2 separate regions of the Homo sapiens genome follow, and region 1 is linked to region 2. Evidence: fine-mapped expression QTL. A gene starts in region 2. The other region holds a variant in brackets. All regions are shown on one strand. Distances are from middle to middle.

What was found. PIP is the estimated chance that this variant, and not a neighbour inherited with it, causes the effect.
Region 1: its variant is fine-mapped to the expression of PXYLP1 in whole blood (TOPMed, PIP 0.99).

Annotation. Positions count from the first base shown.
Region 1 is chr3:141,279,388-141,284,756 of GRCh38, forward strand. PXYLP1 (2-phosphoxylose phosphatase 1) reads left to right here. Exons shown (of 6, transcript NM_001037172.3): 4 at 1-117. Among named protein-coding and RNA genes, the nearest start is that of PXYLP1, 50 kb to the left of the region's middle. The variant C/T (reference allele first, on the strand shown) is at 2,811.
Region 2 is chr3:141,229,070-141,234,438 of GRCh38, forward strand. It overlaps PXYLP1 (2-phosphoxylose phosphatase 1), which reads left to right and starts at 2,756. Exons shown (of 6, transcript NM_001037172.3): 1 at 2,756-2,842. RefSeq lists a silencer at 2,495-2,874.

The DNA.
Region 1 (5,369 bases), 50 kb after region 2:
GCATCATTTTAAGCTGGTCTCAGTGCATGTGTTCATTCGCCACGGAGACAGGTACCCACTGTATGTCATTCCCAAAACAAAGCGACCAGAAATTGACTGCACTCTGGTGGCTAACAGGTAAATTGCACTTTTTCTAAAAGTCATTTTCAAGTGTCTGTTATATCCTGTAGGATAGAGAATGACAGGACCTACACTTGGTGAACCATACTGTTTGCAGGAGCCTGAGCTCAGAGCAGTCCTACATGTGAGTGCCATTATACAGTTGAAAAGATGGAGGCCCACAGAGGCGGGGACACCTGTTTGAAGCAACACAGCAGATATACTGAGCCCAGGCCAGTCTGAGGCTCACCCTCCCACCCTGATGTTTTTCACTTTAATAAACAGTTGGGACACAGTACAGTGAGCACTGAGTTAAGAGTCCTCCGCCCCAGCTCACCTGCTCCATTCAGAGCAGCGGGCAAGCCCCTTAGTGTCCTCTGAGCCTCAGCCTCCTACCTCTGAAACGGGGATCACAAGGCTCCCCATGCAAAGTTGGGGCAAAGAGTAAGTGAGATGACACAGACAAATGCACGTTAGCAATTGCAGAGCCATATAAATGTAAGAATTATTTCACCCTTCTAATTTTTCACTGGAGTAGAGGCAGCCTGTTCTTGGTTGAAAGCCCTTAGGATGAAAAATAATTGAACAGAGTGTGGAAATTGTATGGAAATGGCATGGCTCTAAAATTAGAGGCATAGTTAGCAATAAAATATTGGGCTAGACCTCAGCAAATGTGTCTGGAGGCACATAACATTCTAGCAGAGTTTAGTGAATGAGGTCAGGAGATGAAGTGCTCAGTGGGGAAGACGTTATTTTGATGGAATGCTTCTGGGATGCCAGCCTGCCCCGGGAGGGCGAGCCTGGTGGAGCCATGGATTACCTCACTACAGCCAGGGCTGTTCTTTAAAAGTGACACTTTGTAGCTCGTCTTGCAGGGCCCCTGTCACAGTGATGCCAGGACCCTCTAATGGGGCCATTTTTGGCGCTCCCATTTGAGAGGTTCAGTTCCTAGGGACCAGTTGGCCTGGCTGCCTCTGCCCTCATTTTCCTTTGCCTAGTTTTATTTTATTGAACATTCTGTATTTTTAGAAGCCACTTTAAATCCTTTGTGTGAAGAGGGTGGAGTATGCATAGTTACTTAATGTCATTTAATTAATTTAATCTTTAAAAACAGTAATAGTTGACTCATCATTATAAACAGGTACTTAAGAGTAAGAGTGAGCAGGAACCCCGGTGAAGGGGACCCTCTCTAGGCTGCTGACTCCCCCAGGACTGTGGGATCTGGGTCACGAGCAATACCTGCTGTCTTCCCAGGTGCTACTTCAGCTTTAAAAATTACTAATGTTGTGATCTCCTAAAAGGTGGTGTGCCCTGGAGCATGCCCATTATTCTAGTCTAGTGAAACGGAATACTGTGGCCAGCAGGCAGGGTGCAGTGAGCTGAACCAAGCACTAGCTGGCGGTCCACAAGTTTGTTGCCCCAGGGTTTCCATCCACGATGCCACACCCTGTGACTCTCAAAGCCTTTGTAGTAGAAGCTGCCTCTTTGTGAATGCCATGTGCTTTATAAGGAAGGTGCTATTTTAACCCTCATAGTATTACATTTAGCCAGCATTAAGGTTATTAGTTATTTATATGCCATATTTAGTAAATGCTTTTTTGCATTCATAAATATGAATTAAATATGCTTTTCTACATCCAAGGAGGAGAAAACATCCACTTTGATCAGCATTTATTGCACAAATTTTAGTTTTATGCTTCTATCATGTGCCAGGTACCAGAAGGCAGTACACAAGCAGGCACCTACATGAAGTGAAGGGGCCAGCCCTGTGATGGTCCGGGGACAGAGCGTTCCCTATGGAGTAAGCAGCAAGTGCAGGGGGCCCGAGGCTGAAAGAACTGGGCAGGTGTGAGCCACAATAAGACCAGGGTATGGCTGGGCTGGAGCAGTGATGGAGGGAGTAGGCTTCTGAGGAGTCGAAGAAGAAAGGCCGCTTGTTGGGGCTGCCTCTGCCCTCAGGGAGCTCAGCACATTTACAGAGACAGGCCCGGTGCCCAGGACACGGCAGCCCTCAGTGAATAGCTGGCACAGGTGGCAGCAGTGGTGGCAGCATTAGAGAAAGAAGAGGAAGAAATGGAAGAAGAGCAAGAAGTAGAAATGGAAGTAGTTTGGGTGCCATATTTGGGGGCATGAGCCAGAAGAGGGGCAGCCTGACCCCACCTGGGGCAGGGAGGGGACATGGGGTGGCAGATCAGGGAAGGCCACACAGAGAAAGGGACCAGAAAGGTGTGCAGGAGCAAGTCAGGCAGAAGCTGGTGCTGAATGGCCCCTTGGGTGGTGAGACCAACCCATGCAGTGTGAGGTGGTGGACAGCTTGGCACATTGGGGCCCTCAAAGTTAGTTTCACAGGCTTGAGCAGAAAGTTAGTTTCACAGGCTCAAGCGTGGAGTGGAAAACTGGGTAGGAACTAGGTTATCTGAGGCTTCGATACCCAGCAAGGGAGTATGTCCAGGCATGAAGGCAGTGAGAGAGCCGGGCAGTGAAAGGGATGAAAAGATGAAGGTCTCTGACAGCCATAGTGTGGAAGATGGATTGGAAGCTGGTGGCAGCTAGTGGTGTTATTATTAGGGTAGTGATCCAGAGGAGAGACTTCACTCAGAATCAGAATCCACATCCTTAAAGTGCCCCACAAGGCCTGAGTGCCCTTCCTCCACCCCTAACCCGCCTGACCTTGCCCTCCACTCTCCTCGTGCTCACTCACTGCGCTTCAG[C/T]CACAATGCTCCTAGCTCTTCCTTCCACATTCAGGCACTGTATGCTGCCTCAGGGCCTTTGCACAAACTGGTTTCTGTCTCTAGAAGGCTCTTCCCACAGAAAGCTTTATGGCCAGTCCTCTTACCTCCTTTAAGTCTTTGCTCAAATGTCACCTTCTCAATAAAACCTACTCAGAACACTCCAGTTAAAATGACAAGGTGCTCCTCCTTCCACCCTGGTCTCCCACAGCCCCCTTAGCCTGCTCTTCTCTTTGCCACAGCATCTGTTACTTTCTAACCCAGACAAACACACACACACACACACACACACACACACAGAGTGTTCATTGTGTATTGTCTGCTTCCCCAGGCTAGAATATAACCTCCCTAAGGGCAGAGATTTTTATTTGTTTTTGTTCACTGCTGCTGCATTCCAAGTGCTTAGGACAGTGACTGACATATGAGTGGTGGGGTGTGATTAAATGTTTGTTGAATGAATAAATGATGGCAGCTGAAACTCAGAAGTGGCAGCAGAGATGGAGAGAGTGAGTGGGTCTTAGAGAAGGTTACAAGGTGGGATCAATAGGACTTGGTGGCAGGTTGGACAGGGGTATGAAAGGCAGGCCCGATGGGGCCCAGGTTTCTGACTGGGTGTCTGGCTGGTGGTGGTACCCCTCCCTGGAATTAGAGAACACAGAAGGGAGGTATGGGGGGAAGTTAGTACAGGCATTGGTGCTACATTTGAGCTATCATGAAACATTCAAGAGACAGTTTCTAGTCAGTAATAGGCTGTATAATTTTTTTTTTTTGAGACAGAGTCTCGCTCTGTCACTAGGCTGGAGTGCAATGGCATGAACTTGGCTCGTTGCAACCTCTGCCTCCCAGGTTCAAGCGATTCTCCTGCCTCAGCCTCCCGAGTAGCTGGGACTACAGGCACGCGCCACCATGCCCAGCTAATTTTTGTATTTTTTTTTTTTTTTATTTTTTAGTAGAGATGGGGTTTCACCATGTTGGCCAGGATGGTCTTGATCTCTTGACCTCATGATCAGCCCACCTCAGCCTCCCAAAGTGCTGGGATTACAGGTGTGAGCCACCCTGCCTGGCCTAGTCTGTATAATTTTGCAGCTCAGGGGCACTGGCTTGCTGGGAAAAAGAGGTTTAGTTGAGAATCTTCAGCATGTTGATGGCATTTGAAGCTGTGGGCTTATATTACAGACAGAACCTGAGGAGTGAGGGATGGGCCAAAACCAGAGTCCTGGGAAGCACCAGCATGTGGTACTCAGAGAGAAAAAGGATTTCAAAAGGGGCCAGGGATGTTGCAAATGGGGAAAAGTCAGGAGAGCAATGTTATGAGAGCTAAGGAAAGCAGGGCAATGCATTACATCAAGTAAGACCAAAAGGTCCAGAAAGCTAAAAACAAAGAAAAGTACACTGGGCTTATCTTTTCATAATCTCATGTTATTAATATGTAAGATGATAAATTCTTTAATTGGCATGAACTTTAAAAATCTAATGTGATTCCAGTTTCCAGCTATGTATGCTCTTTTGGATTGTGTTTTCTGGTAACAGTGTCACTGGTCGTCTGCCTCTTCTGCTTGCCTTAACATTCTGTGCAGAACTCAGTCATTGCTGAGATTTTAAATAAACAATAAATGTTCTCATGGGTGTGTGGATTAGCCTTGGGGTTCAGCCTCAAACTTTGTGGCATAAATAGATGTGAATAATGCATATAAAAGTGAAGATAAGGACTCCAAAGTGAATGACTTGAAGGCTTAAGATAGTAACACTTTTGATTATTTCAGTTTTCATTATGAAAGCAGATTTTCAATGAGCCCACAATAATATGAGTTTTTCCTAAAGAAAAATTTATTTTCATGGATATAATTATGTCTGCATTAGTCAGGGTACACCTATTTTGTAAGTTTATTTTGTAGCACAGGGACTCATGAATGCATTACCTTAAATAACAAGGAAGTTTAGCTCTTCCTCATGTGAAGGTCTGAAATGTGTGTTCCAGATTGTGCTAGTCAGCTCCACCTGGTCATTCAGGGCCCCAGGTTTCTTCCAGGTTGTTGTTTCTACCATCCCCTGGGGATGGCTACATGGTTGAACCCTGGTTGCTGCCATGCCTAAATAATGGCTGGAAGGAAGGAAGATAATGTGAACCGGGCATACACATGATCAGAAAGCCTGAACCCAGAAGTGGCATACATCTTTCCGTTCTGTTGGCGAATGCGGCTTTACCTCATTTCAGGACCTCAGAAATAGGATCTAACCAAGTTCTTAAGAAGAGAATAGATTTTAGTGTACGACTAGTACACTAGTCTCATCCACACTAGCCTTTAGTTTTAATACAGTCATCCATAGAGGATTGGTTCCAGGATCCTCCTTGGATACCAGAATCTGAGATGCTCAAGTCCCTTATGTAAAATGGTGTTGTATTTACACAGAACCTGCGCACATTCTCCCATGTACTTTACATCATCTCTAGATTACTTATAACGCCAAACACAATGTAAATGCTGTGTAAATAGTTGTTATTTGTATTATTTTTATTGTTGTATTGTTATTTCTTATTGG
Region 2 (5,369 bases):
AGAGGCTTATACTAGTCAAGACTCTCTTGGTTGCAAGTGACAGAGAAAGCCAATTCTAATTTGCTTGGGGGAAAATGGGGTATTTACTGGAACACGTACTTGAAAAATCCAGTGGTATGTGGGATTCAGGCACAGCAGAAACCTGCCTATGACATCCATTCTGTTGTGAAGGTAAACAAAAAAGAAAGAAAGAAAGAAACCTGCCTATCTCACCACTCTGCTTTCCTCTGTCAGCTGCAGTCTCTGGCACAGTCTCCCCAGGTGCTGGCCAGATGGTCCCCAGCTGTGTCAGGCTGCCATCCTGCCTCTTCAGCAACCACGGAGGAAAGAGATTTAGTGGGAGTAATGGTCTTGAGATGCTTCCTCATATCTATTTTCCCTGTAGGAAGCTTTTCTTTTTTCTTCCCTATAGCCCCTTTCTCCATTAAGGCTCGGTGGGTACCACTCAGAACCCAGAGTCCACAGGGGGAGGAGATGCCTCCTCTAGAATGGAAGGTAGCATAGACATCCTCAGGGAATCGGGAAGGTGAGGTAAAGAAACAGGATGTGAGTCTAGGGAGTGTATGATGCCTGATTCCATGAGGGCCTGAGGCTATCCCTATACCAAGTGTGGACCTAGGGAAGGGGGTGGTACAAAGACACAGATCTCAGATAGGTTAAGGAGGAAGCTGAAAGCAGAAAGGGCCTGTGTCCTATCTCCAGGCTGAGACTCTGCCCCCACAGTATGCCCTGCGCTGTCAAGCAAAGCGCTGGTGTGGCAAATTTTGCAGAGAAATGGCTAGAGATGGTGCCCTGAGTTACCTTTAGTCCCCTTGTGACAGAGAAGGGATCCAAGAGTGCCTACATGCTCCCTGCTGAGGGTGATAGTGTGTCCACGAGTGAACCCACCTGCCATGGAGTCACAGAGGCTGAGAGCACAGCATGGACATGTGGCCCAATCCTGCAAACAAAGCCAGGTCCAAGGCTAGTTGCAATGGCTGGCAGAGAAGCTGATTTTCTGCTAGAACTAGAGCTGTGAGGCTGTGAGCCTGGATCTGCCAGGGTCTCATGTGCGCATGAAAGCGTAGTTCATGTGGAAGACAGCAAAACTGAGACGGGGAGTCCCTGAGACCCTGGGACTAAAGCCAGGCCTGAAGCAGACAGGCTCTTCATGTACACAGCGGATCAACCCTTTGTGATTTAAGTTAGTGTGAATTGGGTTGTCTTTTACAGCAGAAAGCACCTTGACTAACCCATGTAGAGAAGAGGGTGACAGTGTGAGCTAAGCAGTAGAGCCTGCAATCCGTGAGAGGACAATCAGAAGGGGCAGAGGAGACATTGTTGGGCGGGCTGCGGTGGGCTTCTGTGGGGGCCAGGTGGGAGAGTTGGGGGTGATGCCAAAGGGGACAGTGAAAAGATTTTGTGCTCATGGATTGGGAGAGGCTGTCAGTATTCAGGGCAGAAAAAAGGCCCGGGATAGCGCTGCATCGGGGGAATACCAGAGGCGGACAGGCAGCAAAGTCCGGTACTGACGAGCCATTAAGGCACCTGATGAAGAAGGCATGACAGGTGGCTGAGAGAATGGCGAGACCACGGGGATAAATGGAGTTGGGAGCTTGGAAGAGGTAAAATTTAGTGCCAGACGTGGTAACTTGAGGAGGAAAGTTCTAAGAAAAAAACCGGAGGGTAGGGGGAAATATGGCTAACATATCTGAGCCAAGTGTGTGGATTTGAGAGCCATCAATCAAGGAGAGAAAGCAGAAGTCAAGGGATGAGATCCTCCCAAAGGTGCACCTCAAAGGTATATAGTAGCAAATTCGAATCCGTATCTATTTTGCCTGAGGCTAGTTGTGCTAGGACACACAGGGTTGCTGTAGACCTCGAGCTGACAGCAAAGACCTCTCTGATAATCGCTGTTGGTCGTTTCATCTCCCACAGAGAAATCTGGTGGAAATCTCCACCAGCTGGAACCTAACATTTGCAATAAATGACCCACAAATACTGATCAAACCAAATACAACCGTTCGCCTATCAGATGTCTAACGGGGCGTTACAGGCAGCCCTCAAGTGCTCTGAGGATCTTCAGCAGCGGCTCCAAGGAAGCCGCGGGCCGGGAGCAGGTGGGAAGGGCGACTGCGCGGGGCCACGACCTCCCCGGGTCTCTGCAGACCGTTGGAGACGGAGCAGCAGCGAGGACTAGAGCAACACAAGGCCGGATGTGTTCTGAGCCGGAAGAGGAGTGTGGGATAGGCCGAAAGGGGTGGGGGGTGGGGGGTGACAGTTTGGGTCTACGTGGCAGCAGGCGCACCCCAGACGCGCGCGCCCACCCGGCGATAGCATCAGCGGCGCCAGGGCAGGCACATGGCCCCAAAGCACCCACACTAGGGCCCGGGCCGGCCAGGGCTGTGTTCCTGGGCCTTGGCGCGCCTCCGCGCAGTCCCTGATCGCAGGTCAGGAGTTGTGAGGCACGCGAGAGCCCTGCGCGTCTGTGGTCGTGGTCCCTGCGCGCTCGGCTTGTCCGTGCCCGTGGCTTTGCACGCCGAGGGCTCTGCAGACTGACCAGTCTCTCCGGGCTGTGCTGGGCCTCCCAGAGGCAGTGTCCTCTCAGCAACCCCGCGCGGTCGCCCCCGCCCAGCCGCACCGCAACACCGCCTCCGGGGCGGAGCTCCAGGGCTCCTGGTGCAGGGCCGGCCGAACTGAGACGGGGCGCGGCGGGGTCGGCAGGGGGCGCTGCCGGGCCCCGCGAGCTCCCCGGTGGCGGGTGCGCGCCGCCCTCGCCTCCCCTCGCGCCGGGAGGAGCTGGCGGCGAGCGCCGAGCCGGGCGCGCAGCGACGGAGCTGGGGCCGGCCTGGGACCATGGGCGGTGAGTGCGGCGCGGGCCTGGGCCGGGGCGGTTGCCGTTGGGGCCGAGCAGCGCAGAGGTTCTAGGCGGGTGGGCGTCCAGGGTCCGAGGTTGGGAGACTGAGGGGGTCCCCCTAACTCGCCAGTGGGAGAGGGGCGGGAAGGCTGGGGGCGCTTCGAAGCGTCGGGTCCGAATCCCGCGACTAAGCCTCCTCCTTTATCCCCGCGCTCGCCCCTGAGCCTAGGACTTGCGCCCTCTTTCCTGCCACTCCCCCCGTGCGCCCGGTGTCCCAGCCCCGGCGCCCGCCCCATAGCCCCCTTCTCCCAGAGCTGGCGCCGTCTCACGCCCGCTGCGAACCCCCGGCTCTGTCTCCAAGCCCTCGCCCCCCGCAGCCCCGCACTCTCCCGCGGAGCCCGCCTCCACCTCGCCCCCGCCCTTCCAGCCCTCTCCCGCACGGCCCCCGCACTCCCGCCGCTGGATTCCAGCCGAGATTCAAGCTCCCGGGATCCCCCTTCCCGGGCGGTCCTGAGCCGGCTAGTCTCCAGGTAAGGAGGCGGCCGCAACTTCGCGGCCTTTCCCGGAGACGGGGCTGGCTCCTCTTGGCAGCCACCTGCAGCCTGACGCCTCCGGGAGTCCCGGGCCTGGCCACGGGGCCGCCCGAGCGCAGGTTAACATTCCTGGATGCGCAGGTTAGGACCGTGTGGTGTAGACCCACGACGTTGCTTTTGCTGGTGAACTTGCCTATGTCCTGATCTTTTAAATAAGCTGGGTTTGTCACACACACACACACAGAGAGAGAGAGAATGGATTTGCTTAGGGTAGGTTGCCTGCTTTGCAGCCGCAGCTGCCTTTTAAATTGTACCTGTGGATGGTAAAGGATTCACGGTGCAGGACGTGGAGCCATATTTTCCCGCTTCGGCTGTGAGTTCAGCGATTGCGAGGGGGCTCTGTAGTGAGTGAGGTTATCACCGCCTGGCTAGCCAGTGTCTTTGTGGAAAGGCAAGGATCCTTTGTAAGCATTCAACAAGTAAAATCAGGAGAGATGGGGAATCAGATCGAGCTGTGAATGGGGAAGTGTAGGGGGGTGGATGGGGGATCGGAGAGTGCTCCACAAATGGAGCCGTTTGTTGATATTTGCAGAAGGCCCGTGGGTGTGAAGCTGGCAGTGCGGAGCCCACCCTTTCAAACGGGATGCGACTGCGGTCGGGCTTGGCAGTAACTTACCCTCCTCAGAGGTGTTGGTGCCCAATCGGGACATCTGTGGGAAGGGGATTTATAGCAGATGGATCAAAAGGCCTCGGGCGCGGTGGCTCACGCCTGTAATCCCAGCACTTTGGGAGGCCGAGGCGGGCGGATCACCAGAGGTCGGGAGTTCGAGACTAGCCTGACCAACATAAAAACCCCGTCTCTACTAAAAATACAAAATTAGCCAGGCGTGGTGGTGCATACCTGTAATCCCAGCTACTCAGGAGGCTGAGACAGGAGAATCGCTTGCACCTGGGAGGCAGAGGTTGCAGTGAGCTGAGATTGCGCCATTGCACTCCAGCTTGGGCAATAAGAGCAAAACCCTGTCAAAAAAAAAAAAAAAAAAAAAACCCTCGTGGTCCCTGGAGAGAGGTGAAGATGCACGGGACAGCCTGAAAGCCAGTGTATGAATCTGCCCCATCCCTTCTCCTGGCTTTCATTAAGTCTTGGATTAAATTAATTGCTTATCTCAGAGAAAGGATGTGTAGGGGGAACTTCTCTGTTAGGGATTGGCTCCTGGCCAGCCCATCCTCACTGATGCCTTGGGAGGCTGCGTTTGGGCACCAGGAACAGCGTGGGCCACCTGGCCTTTGGAGCACAGCACTCCGAGTGTTTGTGGAACTGCAGTATCTGTAACTCTTTTTTCTATTGATCAGCTTGAATAGTTAGCTCAATATTACTTCACTATTGATTAGATAAGTAGCCCAAGGACATACTGGGGCTCAGTAGGGTCTCTCTGTCCAGAAATTCCCGTGGGCTTCTCCTTGGCCCTCCCTACACCGCTCTGTGATGAGTCGCTGTCAGATGCCCCACTGTGCAGGAGCATCTTCAGGGATGGGTGGAAGGAACCACCTCTGTGGCCCCAGGTCCCTGCCTGGTCCCCCCTGTCTACCACATAGGGGTACTCAGTGTTTGTGAGGAAAAAAAATGGATGCCCCGGTGAATTAGTCTGAGTTCACAACCAATGTTTTCTACACTTTGCTACACTGTTCAAAATGTTACCCTTAAATTCAACAGTTTTTTTTTTTTAATGTGTCATATCACCAGAGACAAACTCATTTTTGTGTGTGTTTGGAGCAGTGAGTGCAATCTACGGATCAGTCTCTGATGGTGGGTCGTTAACCTCAGTGGGGACTCCAAGATTTCCATGAAGAAAATCAGTTGTCTTCATTCAAGAATTGGGGTAGGTGGTGGTGGGCGCCCTTGGAAGCTACTAAGTTTGTCTGCTGAGGGTTGAGTCCACCATAGCTTAACCTATAGTGCCCAGAGCTGTAGCCCCAGTCCCCTTTAACATTTCCTATCC